Linked DNA regions of Homo sapiens: region 2 is linked to region 1. Evidence: fine-mapped expression QTL. Tissue or cell type: ileum. Region 1 holds a variant in brackets; the other region holds the start of a gene. All regions are shown on one strand. Distances are between the middles of the regions.

Region 1 (8,108 bases):
ACAGGAGAGAGAGGGAGTCAATTCTCAAGCCTGGAGAAATCCCCTGGGGTGATGAGGTGGAGCAGGAGGACCAGAGAAGCTGCTGAGGATTTGAGCAGAGTCAGCCTCCGAGACAGTTCTTTTGTGTCTGTCTCGAAGGCTCCACTCTGTAATTTTGATGATTTTCCTGTCCATGAGCTCAGTCTCTCTAATGCTGGTTACCTAATGAAAATCCCATTCTGGTGCCTTGGGACCCCTACTCTGCCTCTTCCTGGATCCACAAAACTGGTGGATTATGCCCTAGTCCATTACTTTGCATCTAGCTGATAGTGGACATTCCTTGGATTGTGACTGCTTGTTGGTATTTACCAACAGCTACCTGGATTCTTTGTGCTCTGTCCTTTGCACTTCCTTTCTCCTACCAGTGGGTCTTCCTCCAGCAACTGTGACCTGAGTCATGTTGGAGGTGATGACAGCCTTTAATACTGTACCTCAGCTTCACCCTGGAGGGAGATGCCTGAAGACTCTGCCTCCACAGGCAGGTCAATGTCCTCAGCCCCCTCTCCCACTCCAATGTGACATCCTTGAGCAGATCCTTGATCTGTTTCTCTTTTCACCTCCATGATTCTTCAAGGAAAGTCTAAAATCAAGATTTAGTTCTAAGAGAGTCTGCAATATTGCTAGATAAGCAAGAAGTACAAGCAAAAAATAAAAATAAAAAACAGCATTCCAAAGTAGGACACAGTCCAGTGCTAAGCTGTGTAATATGGCATGTGGTAGAAAATCTGAGAAGGGAAAGTAGCACAGGGCACTGGAATCAGGAACGGCTTCATGGAGGAGGTGAAACATGGGTTGGGCTTTGAGGATGGAGAGGTCAGTCTTCCATTTCCCCACTCTGGTTATAAGTGCTGTGTGCTCCCTCGGGAGAAGGGGGGTCCTTATGTATGTGGGCATCAAGGTCCCCAGTTTTTGGAGGATATGTGAGTGCCAGCAAAGGGGACCAGGAGGATAAGAAGGTCACACTCCCCTCTAGATGGTCATCAAGAGCTATTAGTTATGAAAGCTATTATTGACCAACAGATATTAAATCTTGGCTGCTTGTCCATATGGGTAATGATCATAATAGAATCTACTCTCCTGCCAAATGGATACAGATAAAATCTTGGAGAATAAAAAAAGACTTAGCTTTCTTGAGAGGGAACTCTCATTGAAATGGCATCTATGAAGAGCAAATGCCCTATTCTTAAGTAAGGCTGCAGGGAAGCTAAGGGTATGAGTGGAACACAGGATGGGGAGGTGGGAAATTAAGGCAGGAAGGGGACTGGAGTCAAGTCTGGTACTGAAGCAGTAATACAGGGCTTTTGAACCAGAGGTTTGTATAACAGATACATGTGGAACTTTGGTGAATTGCATACGTCAGCTCCATTTTTATCCCAAGATTCTAATACAGGAGGTCTGGGTGAAGTGGAACCTCCAGCTGGAACATAAGAGGATGTGGTTGTACTTACTCACATCCCCTGCCCACCTGAACCCTGGGAAGTGCTGACTGAATGAATGACAACCACATTGACAATGAACAGGACTTGGAAACCTGGTGGGGCAGTGATTCTCAAAGTGTGGTCTGTAAACCACCTGCATCTCAATCACCTTGGACCTAAGGAATGGAATCTCCAAGAGAAGGAAACTAGGAATCTGCCTTTTCAACAAACACAACAGGACAGCAGATACTTAGACACTTACATACTAAGGTTTGAGAACCACAAGAGAAACAGTAAGTACAGAAGCCCACCAAGCTCATACAAGCAGTAAGTGTTAGAGCTGGGATTAAAACCCAGGTCTGACTGACTTTCCAGGATGTAAAGGAAATCCATCCTTTTGCTATTATGTCAAGCTGCCTCTAAGAGCAGGTAACAGGAGGAATTTCAGGCTGGCTGTTGCTCAGGCAGGGGCGACTACAGGAAGATCAAATCTGGAGGTAGACAAAGAGGACCTCACCACAAAAACTGCTGGGCTGAGGCAAGACCCACACTTCAGAGGGATTGAATGGGGATGTTAATTAATACCTTTGTTCTTAAGAATCAGCAGGGTTCCAGGAAGAAGGGCAAGACCCCGGAGCTGGGTCAGAGGTACAAGGTAGGAACCTAGTTCCTAGTTCCTAGAAATAAGAAATGTCTTAGGAATCAATGTGGATCCTCAGAGTGGATTCAGAAGCCAGAGATTCCTTAAGTTCTCTCTGGCTAGGGTCAGGACTGATCCCCAAATCTGGTAAGTACTCTTAGTGAGGTAGACATTCAGTCCTGGGTAGGAAGCTGTGCTATCCTATAGTTGTAAATACTGGTTGCCCATTATCAATTTGAAGGGTACTGAGAAGGCCTGTGATTATACTCATAGGGCAAAAGCTCCCACCCAGAGTTCTAGTCTTTCTGTTGCCTTTAACATAGTGATCTTAGAGAGATTCTCTTCTTCACATGCTGACCCTAGGGCTGAAACTCAGCCTCTAACTCCTGGTCTTATTCCTGGGACAAATATTTATTTATTTCTCTTGGCTCTTCTGCATCTGATCTCCTTCTGATATTTGGAGAATTCTTGACCCTGCAAGTCTCACTGAAATGTGGATCTGGACTCTGTTAACAAATATCAGAAACTCAATTTTCCAGTCTTCTGAAGCTAGGGTGGGGAAAATGATGTGGACTTAACAAGTTAGATAATCAGAGAGAGCAATCTGAACTTTATTTGGGAGTGAGTGTCCAAGGGCAGCAGAGGTAGGCTCAGCATCACAGCTGGTGGAGTTCTCATGGTGGTCATCACATTCTGGAGTCCAGCAGTGGCTGCGGAGGAGTCCTTGCTGTCGTTTCCGTGGAATGAACTTTGCTCTGTGTCTGGCTGCATAGCCCCTCTGCCTCCTGGCAATTCTGTAAATGACCCAACATCCTTCTAGTTAATTACTTTGCTACTAAACAAGTCAGAAATGTATTAAGTTTCCCTTAGGAAAACATAAGCCCCTCTAGGTTTTTCAATGGAGAGAATTGGATATCAGGAATTGGATTGGTGGATGATGGGGAAGCTGAAAAGCCAAACAATGGTGAAGAAACCTAAAGATGAACAGTTGCAGAATGTTGTTAATTACAAAGGACTGGAGTCATAGTGGGAGGAGGAGGCTGAAGCTAACCAATGTGAGCTTCAATCATGCCTTGTCTAGTGGAGATGAAGCTTACCTGATGCAATGTAGTCAGAGGCATGGCCTGAGGCAAAGCAAGGAAGAAATAACTACCCTGACCTCCCTCCCCGTCTTTCCCCAGGCTGCCACCAGTGCACCATTGGCAGAAACATTGGCAGAGTCCAGCTGGCAAGAGGGCCTCGTCATCCCTGCAAGACATAGCAGAGCAAGGGAAAGGTGGGGAACCGATGGCAAATGACAAGCCCACAGTTAGTCTCTGCAGCTTTCAAATAAGAATATTGCTGGTCAGATGCTAAAAGAGGACATCACCACAAGAATATATTAGAGACAAAAAATTTACAGGCTGGGTATTTCTCAGGTCAAGTAATATTCTGTCTAGCAAGAGAACTATGGGTACATAGCGCAATCATAGATTTTACTTAGTTCTGCTTAAAACTCGTGTCTGTTTTGGTTTGTTTATTTCACTGTATTTCATACCCTTGGGCTGTCTGGCCTTCTCTTTTAACCTAGAACCCTGAGGAGGGGAGGCAGGTCAGTAATAACCACCTCCCTCTGCAAACTTCCACATCTCCAGTCCTTTCCAGAATTCTTTTACCACCTTGACCTGAGGTTTTTATT[C/T]TGCCCACGGGTTAGGGTGCCATAGTTGATTGTGAGAATGATCTAAGGGAGTCTTAAGTCATCAGGTCATCAGGGAGGTGCTAGACACCTGGCAGAGGAGAGATCCAGAGTTAGAAGAGGCCCCAAACACCTGCAGCCCTGTGGGGGCGATGGGAAAGCCTGCCTTCAGGTGAAAGAATCCATTCCTTTATAGTTTGTGACCCTGAGCACTCAGCCCCTACACTTCCTTTTTCTTGCTTTGCTCTTGCTTTGAATTAAAATTAGGAACTGAGCTTTTTTTCATCTTGATACCTTCAGTACTTAACATAGACCACTGTAACCGTGGTGACAAAAAAAAAAAAAACTATGAATGAGTAAATAAGAGAAACAACGAATGAATAACAGCTGCTATGACAATTAAGGCATATGCTCCATTGTGTGGCCATGTGAGATAAATGTCTCCTAACTCACTGCTCTTTCTGTGGCTGTCCCTGGAGATGGGCTTGCGCACCTCACTGCCTTTCCTGCTGTGGGAGGTGAGAGGACTGGGGAGCCCAGAAGCCCAGAAGATGCTCCTGCCAGTAGAGGGCTCTTCCTCTCACTGCTCCGAAGGGATGGCACAGCGGCTGAGCACGATGCTATGGTGGTGTCTGCCCACCTCTGTCCTTTCACCCACATCTCCCCCGTCACACTACTGGCCAGGTCAGGCTGGCATGGGAAATTTCCCTTAGGAGACCTGCAAGCTTGTGGCTTTCTCTTTTTAAATGGTGGTTTCTATGATAGGGAAGGAGTGGGGACTATTATCCTAAAGCCAAACTCACTAAATTTTCAATATGGCAAAAGAAAATAAAGCAAGGGGAGACTTAGCACATCTTAGCTTATAAATTCTGGCTGTCCTATGTGACTTTCTGTTCTGAGTGAATGCGTGATTTTTCCAATGACAAAGAGGGTTCTAGAGCCCCGTAACTTGGAAATGGCTTGGTCTTGGTCTATATTGATGGATATCTTTCTACCTCCACCTATTTCTCCATGAAAACCTCCCCCTTACACACACACACACACACACACACACACACTGCACACTGGTGTTCTGCCAGCCCCAAGGCCTCCTTCCTACTGCTAATTTATGATTCCTCCTTCCTGGTGTCAGTTTTGGCTGATACTAAAGTGGCTAGCACCTCTTTGGAGATCTTTGGAAAACTCCAGTGAGTTGGAAAAGACCAGGACATGGAATCTGTAGAATAACGCTGGATGACATCTGGTTGGATGAAAAATGGGGACAGTCTGACCCTAAGCAGCTTGCCAGAAGCTAGGAACAGCTGCTTCTCAAGGGGGAAGTGTCATCATCGCATCTCCTGAGTGGCCCATTTTCTGCTCTATAGGAGGTAAATAAACATAACACCACCTGAAAATTGGCCTTTTGAAAAAAAGACTTTTTTTTGAAAAACCATCACGGAGGTTCTAACGTTGAAAACTGGAAGCCCCTGGAGCCAGAGTCATGGGAGGAAGTAGGAATGTGAGGGCCAACGGACTAACTGGTCTCTCTTACTGGGGCCATCTATTAACCCCAAAGAGGATGTCTACTTCAGTTTCTACAGTAACAGCTTTAGGGCTGCCCAGTGGGCATCTAGTGGGAGAGAAGGTGCATATTTGGGGGAAATTCTTTAAACACCAAGTTGTTGTGTGTCTCCCACATGGTGTGTGCAGGGGTCTGTGTATCTGTGCTTCACTAGCATCCTTCTCTTTCTCTTCCTTTCTCATCTTTTCACTCTGTCTTTCCACTTCTGTCTCCTCTGGTCTCTGTCTCACTCTCTACTTTGTCTGTCTTCTGTCTCATAGTCTCCCTCTTCACCTAGTTTTCTTTCTCAGGTTTTCATTCTTCCTCCTCAGCTTGGCTCTCATTTTCTTATTGTGCTGGGTTGAATAGTGTTCCCCCAAAATTTGTGTCCTACCTGGAGCCTCAGAATGTGGTTCTATTTGGAAATTGGGTCATTGCAAATGACCTATTTAATTGGTTATTTAATTATTCAATTGGTTATTTAATTAATGGCCATCTCAGTTAAGATGAGGTCATTCTGGTACAGGTGCACCATGAATCCAATATGATGGTATCCTCATAAGGAGAGGAGAAGAGACACAAAAACAGACACACCCTGGCAGATCACTGTGTGACTACGGAAACAAGAGACTGAAGCAATGTGTCTACAAGCCAAGGAACACCATGAATTGCTGGCAATAACCCAAAACTACAAAGAGTCAAGGAAGGAATCTTCCCTAGCACCTTCAGAGAGAACATGACCCTGCTGACATCTTGATTTTGGATCTCTAGCTCCCAGAACAGTGAGATAATATGTTCTTTTAAGCCACCAATTTGTGGTACCCTAGGAAACAAATGAATTTATCACTAAGTTCATGCATACTTCTTCTCCCTATGCATAGCACGCCCCCCACACACCCCACCCCCCCCACTGCCTTTTTTCAGATTCAAACCATTGATCTCACCCATTGCATTTCTGGCATCAGGTGTCAGCTGGCTCATTTTCTTTGAGGCAAAGTTCATATCCACTGGATTCACACCTCAGTTGCCACATGGGCTGCTTCTCTGCTCAGAAATGCCAGGAGTTTTTAAATAGTTCATAAAAGGGACCCCCTTTTGACCTGACCCTCCCAGGTAAGTATGCTGTCTTTGAGGACCACAGAAAGGTTCAAGAATCTGGGTTTTCAGTCTCCACATAGCTCTGGGCAAGTCTCTTAACCTCCCTGAATTCTTTCAATGGCTTCATCAATTAAAAAAAAGGCAACTGCTTTAGTCTTTCCTGCCTCTGGAGAATGTTGTTAGTGTGAAAAGACCTTCAAAAGTACAACAAAGAATGCTGTGCACATTTATAGTCCTTTATTATTCAGACTTAGGAGGCTGGGATGAAATAAATATTTATGGAACCCAGAAGGTGACATGGAATTTTATGGATATTATGACGTTGGATCCTTAAAGCAACCTACCAAATAAGTGATTCCCATTTTAAGTGAGGAGAAAATTGACTTGAAGCAAAGAAACATCACTTTCATAAGAAACAGTGAAGATTCTAATTAAACCCAGATTTCCTGACGTCCAATTTAGAGATTACTACATTACACTGTGACCCTCTCATTTGTTGATTTATTATTTTTTATGGCACACTTCCTTCCCATCTTGAAATATTTCTCTGACCCTTCAGAAGAAGCCACAGACTCAATAGAGTCTGGTCCCCTGTGTAAGGAGAGGTTTAATTTTCAAGTACAAATATTAACAACAGGCCCATAGAGGAAACATTTTGGAGGAACAATCGATGTTGGCAGACAGGAGCCTATCAGGAGGTAAAGGATTTGTAAAAGTGAAGTTTAAGGCAAACCTTTGAAGGGGAGATGAGAAATGCTGCCTTCAGAAAGGAGGAAGGGTCAAATTCAAGGTCCACAGTGGGCTAGAGAGTGTGTGAATCTCCGCCTGAGCTCTGCAGCGGGGAGAGTTTGAAGATGTAGAATTCTGTCTGCATAGCATGCATTATGTCTTTATGTGATATGTATGCGTCAGAGAAGAGAATTTCTTTTCTGTCACAGGCATCGTCTAAAAATGCACACACTTGAGAAATCACCACTCTCTCTCCTTTCTCATTTCTCCACTTTCTGCACATCTTCCTACTTGCTGAGCCTTTCCTCTCATTCCAGAGGGACAGAAGCACCAGCACCTTCTTTAGGAGCTGTTTATCTGGCATCCGCCTCTCTGCTGAGAGAGCAGACCCCTCTTCTTCCCTTCTTTAAGCCCCAATTGTATCTTCCATCCTCCCACTCTGAGTGTGATTAGAGTGAAGAAAATCTCATAAAAAGGAAACTCAAATGTCAGGTAATTACAGCCCATAATTTGTTTATCTTTCAGAAGCCCATATTGGAGGAGCATTACTCACTCTGAGGATCCTGGCATAGGCAGATGCATCACTTGTATTGAAGTATATTATCTGCTGTGATATTTATGATGAAATGAGTTTGCCAGCCATCGTCTATCAGGTCACAAACTCTTACTCAGCCTTGAAAAATGGCTTTTAATACACTCTTGTTGCAAGATTGGGGTGGATGTACAATTTGTGACTTTCCTACCTCTGCTGTTCCCGGGAACAGGGTGTACAGGGCTGTGTACAGGGTGAACGGGGCGGGGAGCTGTGTTCCTTTGCCTTATTCACAACCTCCACCCTTGGTGCAGTGAGAACATGAGTTCCTTAAGGACAGTCCATGTCTTACTCATTTTGTGTCCTCTTTGTACAGGGTCTGGCACATGTTTGATGTCAACAAATGTATGTTGAAACAAAATGAATTGATTCACATG
Region 2 (8,108 bases), 270 kb before region 1:
ACTGTATGGAGCCTTTGGGAGGAGTCCCAGTTGCCACGCTTTCTGCTCTGCCAAGAAGAGAGTGGGATTTGGGTTCATGGTTTTATTGTCACATGTCTGATATTGTAGAGTTTAAAGTCTCTGGGTGGAAAAAGAAACTCTTTCCTACCAAATGAGAGCTGACTGGGAACAGGAGAGGGGAATTCCCTCATTCCCTGTGGCTGTGAATCAGGGCCCCCGTGCTGAAATGTACGTCCCACTACCTGAAACTCAGACTCACTAGTGAGTCAGCAATGCCGCACCTGATTATCAATGGAGGGCAAAATGATGGGAGCATTGCAGGCCCAGGGCATGTTGGGAATGACTGAATCCTGAAGAGGCTCTTTTGAGAATACAGAAGAACTGATTCCTCAAGAGCTTGTGGAAAGACTCACAAGATGTTCTTATTCCCCAGATCAAGCAGATGAGGCGTGTATCAGAATAGAAGACATCAGGGTGGCCTATTGTCAGGGCTTGTTGCCTGCAGAGCCGGGGAGTTCCTCCTGATCTCTACCTTAATTCCACCTGCTTTACCCCCTTTCATTAATTCTTCAGTTGAGTGACATGAGAGTAGGGACTTGGTTTTGTTTATGGCAATATCAACAATATCAACAGTACCTAGATCCATGGGTGATTTTTTTTTTTTTTTTTTTTGAGATGGAGTTTCCCTCTTGTTGCTCAGGCTGGAGTGCAATTGTGCAATCTCGGCTCACCGCAACCTCCACTTCCTGGGTTCAGGCAATTCTCCTGCCTCAGCCTCCCGAGTAGCTGGGATTACAGGCATGCGCCACCAAGCCTGGCTAATTTTGTATTTTTAGTAGAGTTGACCATATTGGTCGGTCCGGTCTCCAGCTCCTGACCTCAGGTGATCTGCCCGCCTCAGCCTCTCAAAGTGCTGGGATTACAGGTGTGAGCGATTGCACCTGGCGATTTTTTTTTTTAAATCGTTAACAGCCAGTGCAGAACAGGTCAGAATAGACTTTGGCTGCGGAGCTGAGCAGGGGTCCAAGTGGATAGAGCCCCGGGTTTGTGTTCTAGTCTTGGTTTGTGGCTAATATGCCATGTGACCTTGAGTAAATCACTTGACCTCGCTGGGCCGCAGTTTTCTCATCTATGAAAAGGGAGAATTTAGACTAGAAGTTGCAATCAGATGCCTACAGGGTCAGGCAATTAAAGTAAATTAGTGAGCTCAATAGAGTGAGTTTGTATTGGCTGTAACGTGTAGACTCCCTCTAAATGGGCAACTGTTGCCAGGTAGAACTGCTGGTAGAGCATCCAGGGCACTTGACTCTTTAAGAGATGCTGAGAATTTTGATGTTTATGTGATACCTCCTGATATTTAAAATACTGTGTGGGTAAAAACTGGCTAAGTCAGTTTTAGTCTTGATCTAGATAGTCCAGAAGAACCCTCCCAGCTTGAGTTTTCTGATTCCAAAATATATGTCTTCTAAAGAAGGTCCTTAAGACATCCCCTTAGTCATGGGAATTTCAGCTGGTGCAAAAGTGAGTGCCTGTGTGTGGGCTCATACTTGTATGCCACTGGGGTTTTGACTCCCCTCAAATGACACTCTCCCAATGGCCTTACCCCTCATCCCTCTCATACACCTGCAGTGGAGCTTGTTTGGTCCCCAGAGCCCAGCCCTGGGCCAGATGGAAGATGCTGTTTGTCTAGTGAGCTCATCAGCAGTAAACAGCTAGCTGTGCTGATGAGCTTGCCCTTCCCCCAGTGAAGGGAAGAGTGGCCACAGGGCAGTGGTTGAGACAGAGGCTGGCTGAGTCAGGCCTTGGGGCCTTGCTGCCTTCCCAGGCCTTTGCTGGCTACATTCCAAAGCTAAATTGGGACTTGGAATCATGCCTACATTATTATCAATCTGGGGCTCTTCAACACACTTGTATGAGTATGCTAGGGCTACCATAACAATGTACCTCAGAGTGGGTGGCTTGAACAACAGAAATTTTTTGTTTCATAGTTCTGGAGTTTAAAAGTCTAAAATCAAGGGTCTGAGGGATGTGAAAAAAAAAAAAAAAAAAAGAGCTCTATTCCAGGTATCTCTCCTTGGGTTGCAGCTAGCTGTCTTCTCTTTATGTCTCTTCATATCACCTTCCCTCTGTGGGTATCTGCCTCTGTGTCCAAATCTCCTCCTTTTATAAGGACACCATTCATATTGGATTCAGGCTCACCCTAATAACCACGTTTTAACTTGATTACCTCCATAAGGATCCTGTCTCCCAATAAGGTCATATTCTGACATCTGGCTGTGGTTGCAGTGGGGGTGGTCAGGACTTCAAAATACAAATACAAATTTTTTTGTATGTGGGTGACAGTTCAACTCATTGTACCACTCCTCCACAGTTTCTCACTCATTACTTTAAACACCAAAACCTAAGTGACCTGCGCATGCCCCATTTCACCTACGACAGCTCAGTGGTTGAGGGTGGGGGATTTTTAAAAGTCTCATTTACTGTTGCACAGCCTCCTGCAAACCGGTCCTCTAGATAGATGAGGAAGGTGAGGGCAATCTCATCAAGCACCTGTTAGGGTACATGCAGGACTTGAATTTCAGGTAATAACAAGGAATGCCTTCTTGTTCTCTGACGCACTGTCTATATGGTATTTTTAATCTTTATGCCAATAATAATTGCAAGTACATATAAAGCACTTGATAAGTGCTAAATATTGTTGCAAGCAGTTTACATGTAGTTATTGAATTCCCACAATACCCCTGAGGTAGGTACTATTACTAACCTCTTTCTACAGATAAGACACCAGGGCCTAAAAAGCTTAAGAAACTTTCCCAAGTCTGTAGTAACTGATGGAGTTGGGGTCTAAACCCCAATAGTTGGCTCCAGAGGCTATGCTTTTACTCATTACACGATAGTGATCAGAGGAAGCAGGAACTCCAGTCTGGGCAACATAGTCAGACCCTGTCTCTAAAAAAAAAAAAAAAAAATTAGCCGGGCATGGTGACCCATGCCTATATTTCCAGTTACTTGGGAGGGTGAGGTGGGATAATTGCTTGAGCCCAGGAGGTTGAGCTATGATTGTGCCACTGCATTCTAGCCTGGATGACAGAGCCAGACCCTGCCTAAAAAAAAAAAAAAAAAAAAAAAAAGGAATTGAACTGGGTGCCAGTGCCTGTAATCCCAGCACTTTGCGAGGCTGAGGCGGATCCCTTGAGCCCAGGTGTTGCAGACCAGACTGTGTAACTTAATAGCAAGACCCCATCTCCAAAAAAAAAAAAAAAAAAAAAGGAAGAAAAAAGAAAGAGAAAAAAGCAAACAACAACAAAAAAGAAGGAAGGAATTATTATTCTCATTGAAGAGATGAGGAAACTGAAACCAAGAAGCCAAGAAGCTAAGTAACTTACCCAGGGTCACACGGGTAAGAGGCAGAGTAAAGGTAGAATTCTAGTCCTGAAAGCCTATGGCTTCTCCCAGACAGGACCAAGTGTCCTGGTTCTCTTCTTCATGTGCAACTCCACTTACACAGGCCCACGAGTAGTAGGGCCAACCCAGAATCTCAAAACCCTTATTTGTGCTTAACTGTCTGCATACTGCAGGGTAATTATGGGCCGTGAAGGAGGGAGGCACCCTCTCGACTTAGATCTGAACTCCCAGTCGCTTCCAGTTCCCAGGACCACCAGCCCTGAGCCGTAAGGCTAGGCCTGAATCTGGGACTTTCTTAGCCGGAGTTAGAAGCGGAGGAGTAGGGTGGGACGCTGGACGGACGCCGCTGGGCCGGGCAGCCCAGAAACGCGGAGTGTCATATTTCTTGCAACTCGCCAATCCCGAACGCCGGGGGGCGTGGCCACACCTGGGAGGCGTGGCCGGGCGGATGCGAAGGCTGCGGCGTCCTGGGGCGAGGCGCTGACGTGAGCTCGGCGCACCTGGGCTGGGCAGGTAAGGGCTGGTGCGGGACGGGGAGAGGAACCTGCAGTCCCTACTTGGGTAGAGCCAGGCGCCCCTTGGCTAAGACGTCGAGGAGCGTGGTAGCGACGGGTGATCTTCGCTGCGGACTTGGTTCGGAGGGACGTCCGCTTCTGGTGGACAGATTGAGCAAAGGTGGGTACGCCAACTTCTGGGGACCAGCTTGAGGGAGGAGAGGCTCCCCCGTGGGTGGGGTAGGACCCATCCCCGGAGTTTGTAGGGGGTGAGAGAACTTGCTTGGGGGCATCTGTGTGTTTGGGGTGGGTACCCACTGGGGCTGGGTGCCTGTCGCCCTTTTCCAGATAGCTTTGGGGCGGCCTCAGTTCTGTAGCGCTAGGCCCCTCTCGAATCTACACTTGTGTCTACTCTCCCTACCCCCACCGCCGAAGCGGAGGGCACTGCTCTCGGCCGTCAACAACCCCACTATCCGGTAGAGCTAAAGCACCGCGCCCCCTTCAGTCTTACCAACTTGCGGCTGGCCCCTGTGTCCCAGAGAGGGGACTTCCCAGGTCCGCAGGTCCTTGATCCTAGTGGGCGTTTTGGGAAACTGGAGTGAGGGTGGCCAGGAGCTTTGGAGCATTGGCGGTTTGTCTTCCCTCCCTGAGTCTGTTTGGCACAGTTAGGCCCTTCGCCCTGGGCCTGGGAGACAACCTTGGATTTCCAAGGAGCGGAGCTAGGTGCTGGGGAGGGTGGCGCTGGGGTGTGGTTGCTCTGGGGGTGGGCCCTCTTTGCCCGAAGGGGCTGGAGGGTGGTGTGGAGAATGGGGAAAGTCTCCCAGGCCTGACTTGGAAAGGAGGCCTGAGGTGTCACTCTTTACAGGGAGCCTGCTTTGTGGTAAAGGGGTCATCCTGTTCCAACCTGTTCTCTTGGTGGATGTCAAGAGTGGAAGTCAGGGAAAAGAGATGGATAGAGAGAGGAAGGCGCTTGGGTGGGATTGGTGAAAGCTGGTGTTGACCCAGGAGTGTGGTTTAGGATGAGACGTGTGTATGATGTATGACAGTGGCACTCAATACCTTGTAACTCCCATTCGCCATCCCCCAGCTTCCATCCAGCAGAAGGGAAGGGTGTGGGCATTTTGACTAGAGGCCTGCAGTTTACCCCTAAGCAGGGCTAAACAGGGAAGCCTGAGGAACGGAACTTAGACGATGGCATTTCATTTCTTTCAGGAGAAAGGGAAGAGCTGGGACTGCTAAGAATTGTCTGCGAGAAATGGCGTGTGTTTTAACCTGAGCAAAACCACTGACGGCCAAATCTCGGCTTTTGTGTGGCAGTGCCCCTGGAAACTAGTCTGGGGAGGAGCTATGGAGGTGGCAATGAGGGTGTTTATGGAGGACCTGCTCCCTAGAATAGGGGTATGGGAGAGGACAGTTATGCTCGGAGGAGGCTGAAAGTGTCCCTCCTCTATGCTCACTGTGAGGGGAATAGATAGGTTAGCATCATTGTCCTTTGGCTGTTTAAGTACCTGTTAGAGACACAGGCCTTACATTTTGCTGTGATGGCAGCTAGAGATACCAAGATGAGTTCAACTAGGCTAAGGTGGTTCTTCAGGCGTTGGGATTTGGGTGGCAAGAGTGTTTAGAAAGAGAACTCTGATTTAGGTGTGTTTGAGAGTGGATGTTATGCAGTCTCCACCTCAATCACTTTATTGGCCCTCTATGCTGCTGGGATCTTTGTTGATGTTTTTAGTTTACTTTCTTGGTGCGCAGAAGATGAGAGGGACATGGAAGACAAGGTGCAGTGGCAGGGTTTGGTACAGAACACTGTGACTTAGGAAATAAAGCACCTCAGCCCAGATGTAAAATGGGGATAGTAATATCACATTCAGGTTTATGAGGATGAAATCAGACATGTTAGGTAAAGGTTCATGTAAAAATTGTAAAGCCTACACAGATACAAAGGATTGTTGTTACCATCCTTCATAAGAAATGTCTTATTGTCCTGAGGTTAAGAAAAAATTACTTGTAGTTTTTTAAATTATAAATTGAAACATATCATTGTAGGAAAATATGAATCATATATAATGTATATGGGAGAATGTAAAAAGCACCCATAGTTGCATCACTAGATAACCATTACAAATATTTTGTTGCATTGTTGTATTTATTTCCTTTTTTCAGTTCTGTGTGTATGTGCACATGTATGCAAGTATATGCTGTGTTACAAGATGGAGATAGTGCTACACAGTCAAGTTGTATGCTGTTTCCCCCTGCCCCCACAACTTCATATTGTAAACATTTCCTTGAGTATAATACAAATTCTGACACCTGTTGTTAATGGCTACTTAATATTGCAGCCTGTGGTTGTGACGTAATGAATGTTTCTGTCTTGGCCATTTGGGTTTTCAATTGTTCCATCTCTGCCTGTTTTTAGACTTGTAGTTACTGGGTGGTGAGTGGGGGAGATCTTGGCTGACTTTCAGAAGGTGGAGAGGGTTTACAGTGAGAGAGGCAGGGCATGGGCTTGGAGGAGGGCAGGCTGGGGCTCCTTCCATGGGGCTGAGGCAAGGCTGCTCTTGTGTAGTCCCATCTTAGGAGAACACTGAGAACCCAGGGCTCTAGATCTTAATCACTGATTTCTGTGGGTGGCTGCTTCTCCTTTCCCATCATCAGGTGCAGCTCCTGGTCTTGGCCTGATTGCCTTAATTTTTGCATGGTGGGATTTGGATCAACTACAATAAGTCCTTTTGGACTTTTCTTCCAGTCCACTATCAGTCAAGAGTTGGATTTTAATGTCTGACAGGCCCAAACACAGCACTTACCAGTATTGCAATGGAAATTCTCAAAAGCTCTTTACTAGATTGACTGGTTTGGTGCCTATTTCCCTATCCTCTTTTTCCTTCTCTTGCTCCATCCCCCTTTCAGTAGTGATAGGACTGGGGAGCAGAAGGTAGAACTAGCCGTTGAGAGAATATGCATCCCCTCCTCCTTATAAGGCTTATAATGCACTCCATGGTTTGATGGTTTCACATGCTGCCCTACAAAACACCGTAATTCAAGGCCAACTACATGGGGGTACTTGAACACTGCGTGCCAACCTGACCTACCCACTATGCTCCCAGGGGGAAGGTTTCAGTTGCAGGACTTGGTAATTGGGTCAGAAAGCTCAGGTGAGAGCAGGTCTTGCCTTGCTCTTAAAGTGCCAGACGCTGAGTTGGGTTTGGGTTTTTCACATTTGTTGGGAGTCTGGCTGGGGAGAGAAGTGGTGTTATGGGCCACCCCGTCAGCTAAGCTCTTCTGAGTAGGAGCCTTCAGCTGACCCTTTTAACCTCTTTTCTTTCCCACCTGGCACAGTTTATTCCCATATTTAGCTGCTTTGCTGTAAGGTTGTTTGGTTTCAGAACTGTGGTCCAGGTAGGGATCTTTCTGGGTATGAAGGTGACCTATTTATCTTCCCCTCCTTCTCAGGCCATTGTGGGGCTTGAGAAGTTCCAGTGTGGAGTTTCTCAAGAAGGAACATGGAGCGTCAGTGTTTAGTAACTAACACCGTGCTTGGCACACAGTAGCTGATGAACAAATATTTGTTGAATGAGTGTTCTTTTTCCAGGCATCTCATTCTCATCTTAAGTAAAAACAAAATAAGAACACCAAAAAATCCAAACACAACATCTCAGACAAACAATTCTCCAGTGACTGTTTTTTTATCAGTCACCCAATCTGGGAAGGCTTTTGTTTTCTGCTGTGAGTGCCAGCTGCTCTTGAATGTTATCTGCTATGCCCATGTATTTTTACAAGAATCAATTGCAGACTTTACCCATGCTGGCTCCTGCAACCAATTGGTTCACTCCAGCCTTCACTGGGAGATAAACAGACCCAAGGGAGGAGGCTGTCCTAGCCATGCAAAGCTTGTCTCATGACTGCTTTTAGTACTCTAAGTACTCTTAGTACTTTAGTATTTGGTTATTCTAGGGCTTCTGAGCTTTACCAGACTCAGTAGTGGAGACGTGTTCTCAGCCTTTGTCGCCAGTGTTCCCAAGCCTTCTCCCAGACACTGGATTGTTGTATGGATAGCCAGCTGAGACCCCTCCTTTTCTCCATACAGAATCTTTGAGCGGTCAAGGGAAAGACAAGCCGACTCTTCAGATCCCTGTGGACACACTGCCTGCTCTTCCATGTAAGTGAGGACTCTGGAGTCCAGGATCTACCCCTTATCTACTTCTCCCTCAT

Direction of the effects. Positions count from the first base shown, and alleles are read on the strand shown. Sizes are in standard deviations (SD) of each study's normalised expression.
In carriers of allele C in region 1, the expression in ileum of the gene that starts at base 3,885 in region 2 tends to be higher than with T alone (moderate effect, 0.63 SD a copy in CEDAR).

The links. PIP is the estimated chance that this variant, and not a neighbour inherited with it, causes the effect.
Region 2: it holds the start of IRF6, and the variant in region 1 is fine-mapped to the expression of IRF6 in ileum (CEDAR, PIP 0.95).

The regions. Positions count from the first base shown.
Region 1 is chr1:209,530,931-209,539,038 of GRCh38, reverse strand. LOC105372898 (a long non-coding RNA gene) reads left to right here. Exons shown (of 7, transcript XR_922535.3): 4 at 7,665-7,792. Among named protein-coding and RNA genes, the nearest start is that of CAMK1G, 49 kb to the left of the region's middle. The variant C/T (reference allele first, on the strand shown) is at 3,776.
Region 2 is chr1:209,801,919-209,810,026 of GRCh38, reverse strand. IRF6 (interferon regulatory factor 6) reads left to right here and starts at 3,885. Exons shown (of 9, transcript NM_006147.4): 1 at 3,885-4,080; 2 at 7,984-8,055. RefSeq lists a silencer at 3,620-3,963.